2 linked regions of the Homo sapiens genome follow. The protein of the gene in region 2 purifies or fractionates together with the protein of the main gene of each other region. This does not show direct contact. Each region holds a gene or a part of one and is shown on either strand. Other genes may lie near its edges.

Evidence for each region.
Region 1: the proteins of ZMPSTE24 (region 2) and RAB10 fractionate together in Homo sapiens (co-fractionation; one large-scale study listed by BioGRID). This does not show direct contact.

Annotation. Positions count from the first base shown.
Region 1 is NC_000002.12:26,124,500-26,128,323, reverse strand, and holds part of RAB10 (ras-related protein Rab-10), read right to left. Parts: intron 1,181-3,824; coding exon 1,091-1,180; intron 475-1,090; coding exon 373-474; intron 1-372. UniProt on the Homo sapiens protein: The small GTPases Rab are key regulators of intracellular membrane trafficking, from the formation of transport vesicles to their fusion with membranes.
Region 2 is NC_000001.11:40,271,721-40,275,544, forward strand, and holds part of ZMPSTE24 (CAAX prenyl protease 1 homolog), read left to right. Parts: intron 1-173; coding exon 174-315; intron 316-3,824. UniProt on the Homo sapiens protein: Transmembrane metalloprotease whose catalytic activity is critical for processing lamin A/LMNA on the inner nuclear membrane and clearing clogged translocons on the endoplasmic reticulum.

The sequences.
Region 1 (3,824 bases), on a different chromosome or scaffold from region 2:
AAGTGAGTGAGCATTATTACCTGAGCTCCGCCTCCCATCAGATCAGTGATAGCATTAGATTCTCATAGGAGTGCAAACCCCACTGTGAACTGCACATGCAAGGGATCTAGGTTGCGTGCTCCTTAGGAGGATCTAACGCCTGATGATCTGAGGTGGGGTAGTTTCTGGGTGAAACTACCCCCCAGTACGGTCCATGGAAAAATTATCTTCCATGAAACCAGTCCTTGGTGCCAAAAAGGCTGGGGACTGCTGCCCTACAGAAACAATACCACCCAAACTCAAATTCTGTATGTAAATCCAGTACTTCAGAATAGACAAAATATTCAACAGAGATACTCAGGTACCTGGCAGGATATAAAAACAGGAACTTACCTTTCGAAGGATATCTTCAGCTAACGTGAGGAACGCCTTTTCGATGTTTATATTTGCTTTTGCACTAGTCTCAAAAAACCTAATACCATGCTCCCTTGCAATCTAAAACAGAAACAAAATATCATCATAAAATTATCAAGCATGGGTTGCCAACTGCTGACTTTAACAGCTTAAATATTAATCTTATTCTGAAGGCAGTGGTCCCAACTAGAATATATAACACAGAATATTTCAGCAAGTCAAGCTCTTTCATAAAACAAACAAAAGAAAAGTAATCTCCTTACCCCAAAAGTTTATTTCAGATATTCTAAGTCAGATACTTCACACTGGGGGCAAACTTATGAGAAGCTCAACCTGACTCCTCAGGGTCTAATTTCTGCTCACCATAGGCTCCTGATTGTCACATTTTAGAACCATACTAATTGATACATTTCCTTAAAGTCCTAAGTTTAAAAACCGAGGATTAATGACTTATATTTTTCTCTCTTTGTAGTTTAAATAAGGCTAAAAATACTATGGGCACATTTGATTCTCCCATACATGTTAAATATGCACTGAAAAAAAATTCACTCAAATGATAAAATATTATTTCCAACAAGCATTTTAAAAACTATGTAATTAGCTTAGTGTGTTCGATCACTATTACTATAAAAATAATCAAAAGTAGCATTACCTTTACAAAGACAGAGCAGAGTATCAGTTTAATTCAGATTTTTACCTGTTCTCCTTTTCCTTTAGGTACAACTCTTTTGTCGTCCATATCACACTTGTTTCCTAGTAACATTCTTTCCACATCTTCATTGGCATGCTAAAATGAAATAAAATTTTACTTTTACATACTACCATGAATTACGGCTTAACAGTCTTTAAAAGTGACTTTATTCTCTCAATTTAGAGGGTCATTTCTATAGCTTTGAAGTTTTAAAGCAGTCACCCTAAAACTACTCCATACTAAAAGCCTACACAAATTCTTAGATTACCTAGCAAAAGAAACGCAATTCCCAAGACATATCCATGTCAAATACTATTTCCTCCCTAAAGGAGGCTGTCTACTTTCTAGGTATGTTCTTTCTTACCAAAAGAGAAGATACAAGCAAAGAAACTTGCATAATCTAAATCCAGGCTGGATCATTTCAGATTTTATAATGCATACTACCCTATAGAAGCCTTAATTAAACATTTTATAGAGCCTTAAACTCTCAAATAGCTGTGCTGCTATGGCACAAGGAGGTCCATGCAGAAAAATCAGTTAAAAACAAGTGGTTGTCCCCTTAAGATCCCAATGACAATTTTTGCAGAAATAGAAAGATCTATCCAAAAATTCATATGGAATCTAACATCAAAAGAATCTCTCTTTTTGAGACAGAGCCTTGCTCTGTTGCCCAGGCTGGAGTGCAGTGGTGTGATCTGGGCTTCCTGCAACTTTCGCCTCCCGAGTTCAAGCGATTCTCCTGCCTTAGCCTCTTGAGTAGCTGTGAGTAGCTGGGACTACAGGTGTGTGTACTACCATGCCAGCTAATTTTTGTAGTTTTCTGGTAGAGATGGGGGGTTTTGCCATGTTGGCCAGGCTGATCGCGAACTCCTGGCCTCAAGTGATCCACCCCCATCGGCCTCCCAAAGAGCTAGGATTACAGGCATGAGCCACTGAGCCCAGCCAAAATAATATTAGCTGGGGGAGTCAAATTTCAGAACTTACTGCAAATCAAAAAGTGTGGAACTGGCATAAAGACAGATACACAGACTAATGGAATGGAATAGAGAGCCCAGAAATAAATCCTCACATACTTAGTCAAATGACCCTCGACAAGGATGCCAAAATCAGTCAATAGGGAAAGGACAGTCTTTTCAATAAATAGCACTAGGAAAACCAGATATCCACATGCAAAACAATGAAGCTGGATCCTTATTTTAAACCATATAAAAAAATTAACTTGAACTAGATCAAAGACCTCAAACTATAAAACTCTTAGAAGAAAACATAGGGAAAAGCTTCAGGACACTGGATTTGGCAATGGTTTCTTTGACATGATACCAAAAGCACAGGCAATAAAAGAAAAAGTAGTTAAACTGTACTTCATCAAAGTTAAAAACTACTGTGCAACAAAGGACGCTATCAAGAGAATGAAAAGACTACCCACAAAAAGGAGGAAATATTTGTAAATCATGTATTTGAAAGGGAATAATACCTAGAATATATAAAAAACACCTAAAACTCCTAACAACAACAAAAAATGACAGCACTTTGGGAGGCTGTCAGGAAAATTGCCTGAGCCCAGGAGTTCGAGACTAGCCTGAGTAACACTGTGAGACCTCATCTCTACAAAAAATTTAAAAATTAGCCAGGCACGGTGGTGTGTGCCTGTAGTCCCAGCTACTTAGGAGGCTGTGGTAGGAGAATCACTTGAGCCTGGGAAGTTGAGGCTGCAGTGAGCCATGATCATCATGCCTCTGTACTCCAGCCTGGGGAACAGAGCAAGAACCTGTCTGGAAAAAATTTAAAAAAAAAAAAAAAAAAAAGCAAGCAAAGGATTTGAATAGACATTTCTTCAAAGAAGATATACAAACAAACAATATGCACATGAATAGATGCTCAATATCACTAAGATTAGGAAATGCAAATCAAAAACCACAATGAGAGATACCACTACATACCCATTAGTATGGCTACTATTAAAAAAACAGAAAACACATATTGGCGAGGATGTGGAGAAACCGACACCTTTGTGTACTGTTGGTAGGAATGTAAAATGGTGCAATCACTGTGGAAAAGTCTGGTGATTCCTCAAAAGGTTACACACAGAATTATCATATGATCCAGCAATTCCACTCATGGGTATACACGCAGAAGAATTTAAAGCAGGGACTCAGATATTTGTACACCAGTGTTCACAGCAACATTATTCACAATAGTAAAAGGGTGAAAACAACCCACATATCCAACAATGGGTGAATGAATAAACAGAACATGGCATATAAAAACAATGGAATATTATTCAGCCTCAAAAAATAAACAAGTTCTGACACATGCTACAATGTAGATGAACCTTGAAAACTTTATGTTAAATGAAGTAAATTACTTACAAATTGAACAAATACTATATGATTCCACTTATATGAGGTACCTATAACAGTCAAATTCATAGAAAATAGAATGGTGACAGTTGCCAGGAGATGGGGAAAGGGGGAGACAGAAATCATTGTTTAATGGATGCAAAGCTTGAGTTCAGAAAGATGAAAAAGTTCTGGAAATGGATGGTGGTGACGGTTGCACAACAGTAGAATGTACTTAACACCACTGAACTATACACCAAAATAATAGTTAAAATGAAAATTTCATGTTGTATGTATTTCACCACAATTTTAAAAAGTATTCAAAAACAACAATAGGCTGAGCACGGGGGCTCATGCCTGTAATCCCAACACTTTAAGAAGCTGAGGCAGGAGGAGCACTT
Region 2 (3,824 bases):
ATTATGCTCTTACTATCTGGTACTATTTGGGCCTGGGAATACCAGAGCAAGTAAGTTCCTTGTTCTCAAGTTTGAGGTCAACATAGTTGTTTTAATATAATTTAATCTGTATAATAAAGAATGTTTTTTCTTTAAGAACATGTTCATATGTTATTCTGACATTTACTTTTCAGGTTCTTGTCACAATCTATGCTGATTATATTGCCCCTTTATTTGACAAATTCACACCTCTGCCTGAGGGAAAGCTTAAAGAAGAAATTGAAGTAATGGCAAAGAGTATTGACTTTCCTTTGACGAAGGTGTATGTTGTGGAAGGTAAGGCTACCTGGGGATAAGAAAGTTTTATCCAAGTGGTTTGTTTTATTTGATACTTTATTCTTAAAATTTTAATAAAAGAATTAATCAGTTTTTGTTTTTTTCTTTTTAAAATTTGTTATTTAAAGGCTAGGAGTTTACCTTTTGGCTTTTTAAGATTTACAGAAATTGATAACATAGGCCAGGGATAGAAACTGGTGGCTTGATACCAAATCCTGCTCTTGTCTGCAGCTATGTTTGTTTGGTTTTACAGTATTGTTTTAAATTTTTGGCCAAGGCTTTTTCACTCTCTGTTATGTTATCTTATATATTAGACTGATTTATTCACTTCTGTTATCTGCCTAGTTCTTTTAGGTAGTTAAGTTGGACTCTTGAATAGTCAAATTCTGTTTAGTATTAGTTTGGAGGCTCTTAAACAAAGCCAGTGTTATTGGCCTTGTCTCCTCCAAGAAAATATCCAGTGTTCTGGAGGACTCACCTGAAGATTGATTACCAAAGACTGCAGTACCACTGAGTACTGCAGATTTGTTATACTCTGCTTTTTTGATGATTACTTTTGAGATTTAAGTGGTCTCTTGACCGTTACTCAAATCTTGACTTCCCATTAACACCCAGTCTATTACTTTCTTTGAGACTTTGGTAGTTGACTATTAAAGTCTCAAAGAAGACTACGGAGATGTAGAGAGAAACTGTTGTAAGGTTCTATGACTTTCAGAATTTATAAAGTCCATATAAATGAATGTAATAGTTCTGTTCCTGCCACTTACCAGTTATAGGATCTTGGACAAGTGACTTCACCCTTCTGGGTTTCAGTTGTATTTCCTCTAAGCTATGGTTTCACAAATGTTTTTTGTAAAGGGCTAGATAGTAAATATTTTAGCTTTGCGGGCCACTTGTTCTCTGTTGCAACTATTCAGTGCTACTATTATAGCGCAAAAGCAGCCATAGACAATACTAAACAAATGAGTGTGGCTGTGTTCCAATAAAACTTTATGAAAATAAATGGCAGATTGGATTTGGCCTGTGAGCTACAGTTTGCTGATCCCTGCTCTAAAATAAAATATTACCAGTGAGAAGCAGCAGTGTTAGATGAAGGAATAGAAGCAGAAACAATCACAGGGTTAGAGGAGAACAGAGATGGTCACAACTGAAAAGAATGAATCAACAGCAACTGGAAGAACATAGAAATTTCAGACATCTGGCTGGGCGCTGTGGCTCACGCCTGTAATCCCAGCACTTTGGGAGGCCAAGGCAGGCGGATCACCTGAGGTCAGGCGTTCGAGACCAGCCTGGCCAACATGGTGAAACCCTGTCTTTACTAAAATACAAAAAATTAGCTGGGCGTGGTGGTGCGTGCCTGTAATCCCAGCTACTTGGGAGGCTGAGGCAGGAGAATCGCTTGAACCTGGAGGTGGAGGTTGTGGTGAGCCAAGATCAAGCCATTGCACTCTAGCCTGGGCAACAAGAGCCAAATTCTGTCTAAAAAAAAAAAAAAAAAAAAAATATATATATATATATATATATATATATATATGTCAGACATTTAGTGGCTCCTGAGGATATACAGCCCAACTAAAGGCACGATTGGAGTAGCTTAAAAGTCTGTGGAGAAATGGTAGAATAAGCCAGTTCATACTTACTTCTTTAGCCTCTGAAATAACTACTCTTTTTTTTTTAGGTAATATTAAACTAGAAATTTAATCATTAATCAGTACAACAGAATAGTCTCTAAGCTGCTTTTACTGAAGGAGCAACCTAAGTTGCTGATCCCTTAAGTTACAATCAGATAACGTGAAATAATAGTTAATGCTATGACAGTGGAGGTAGTCAATAGAATATGTGAAATATATCGGTGCTATTTTCTTTTTATCTTTTTTTTTCCCCCTACAACATCCAGAGTATGAGAGCTATTTTCATTTTAGATAAAATAGTCAGGGAAGGCTTTATGGAAGGTTATGACCTGAGCTGGGTGTTAATGGGAAGTCAAGATTTGAGTAGGTTGGGGGCAGCATTTCAGACGTCAGGCTTCAGGGTCAAAAGGCTTGGGTTTGAATCATAGCTCTACCACAGATTACCAGTGCTGGGCTTGGTGGCTCCAGCCTGTAATCCCATCTACTGGGGAGGCTGAGGTGGAAGGTCAGGAGTTCGAGACAAACTACTTGTGTGACTTTGCGCAACTTAGCTTTGCCAAACAGCAGTTTACTCACCTATAATGTATGTTTTAATTGTTGTTAACAACAGTAACAATTCTCAAAAATATTTTGAATGAATGAATGTTGTTGCTGACAATAACAACACACATTACATATTTGTAAATTGGTAGGGAGATTGTAGTGAAAAGCCAAGAATCTTGCTCTCAAAATATTATCAGATAGCAAGTGCTATGCAGCAAATTAAACTAGTTTGGTCTGATAAGTTGATACTGTAGATTGGTCATCAGATTGAGCTGAGACCTAAAGGGAGGAGCCGCCCATTTGACGTCAATGGGAAGATGTTCAAGGACCATGAAGAAGTCCAGTGTGGCTGCACCATAGCAGGAGAGTGTTAGGAGATGAAATCTGAGACATAGGCAAGAATCAGTCCACATAGGCCTTTGTAAGTCAGGGTAAGGAGTTTGGATTTTGAGTTCAGTGGGAAGAGCCATTGAAGGCTTAGACAGGAAAGTGACATGATCTGCTTTGTGTTTTTAAAATATCCTGGGCTACTGTATGGAGAATATGTTGTAGAGACAGGCAAAAGTCTAGGTAGGACATAATGGTAGCTTAGACTAGGATAATAGTAATTAATGGAGAGAAGTGGATACATTTGGGACAAGTTTTAGGGTAGAGTTGATTGAATTTTCTAATTGATTGCATTGGGAGAATAAGGGAAAGAGTGACATCAAAGATAATGGCCTAGACTTTTGACCTGAGCAGTTAGATATATGGTAGTTTCCTGAGATGGAAAAAAATAGGAGAAGAGTAGGTTTGTGGGGAATTAAGACTTCTAATGGCTATATTACATATTGAGGAACCTACTAAACATTGTATTAGAATTCTGCAAGCAATAGAAACCAACTGTGGCTGATTTAAGCAGAAAAACTGCTTATTGAAGCACTATTTGGACCAGGCGCAGTGGCTTATGCTTGTAATCTCAGCACTTGGGGAGGCCGAGGTGGGCGGATCACTTGAGGTCAGAAATTCGAGACAAGCCTGGCCAACATGGTGAAACCCTGTCTCTACTAAAAATACAAAAAAAAAAAAAAAAAAAAAAGCCGGGCGTGGTGGCGGGCGCCTGTAGTCCCAGCTACTTGGGAGACTAAGGCAGGAGAATTGCTTGAACCCAGGAGGCGGAGGTTGCAGTGAGTCAAGATCGTGCCACTGCACTCCAGCCTGGGTGACAAAGCAAGACTCTGTCTCAAAAAACAAACAAACAAACAAACAAAACCAGTATTTGGCCAGGCGTGGTGGCTCACGCCTGTAATCCCAGCACTTTGAGAGGCTGAGGCAGGTGGATTACCTGAGGTCAAG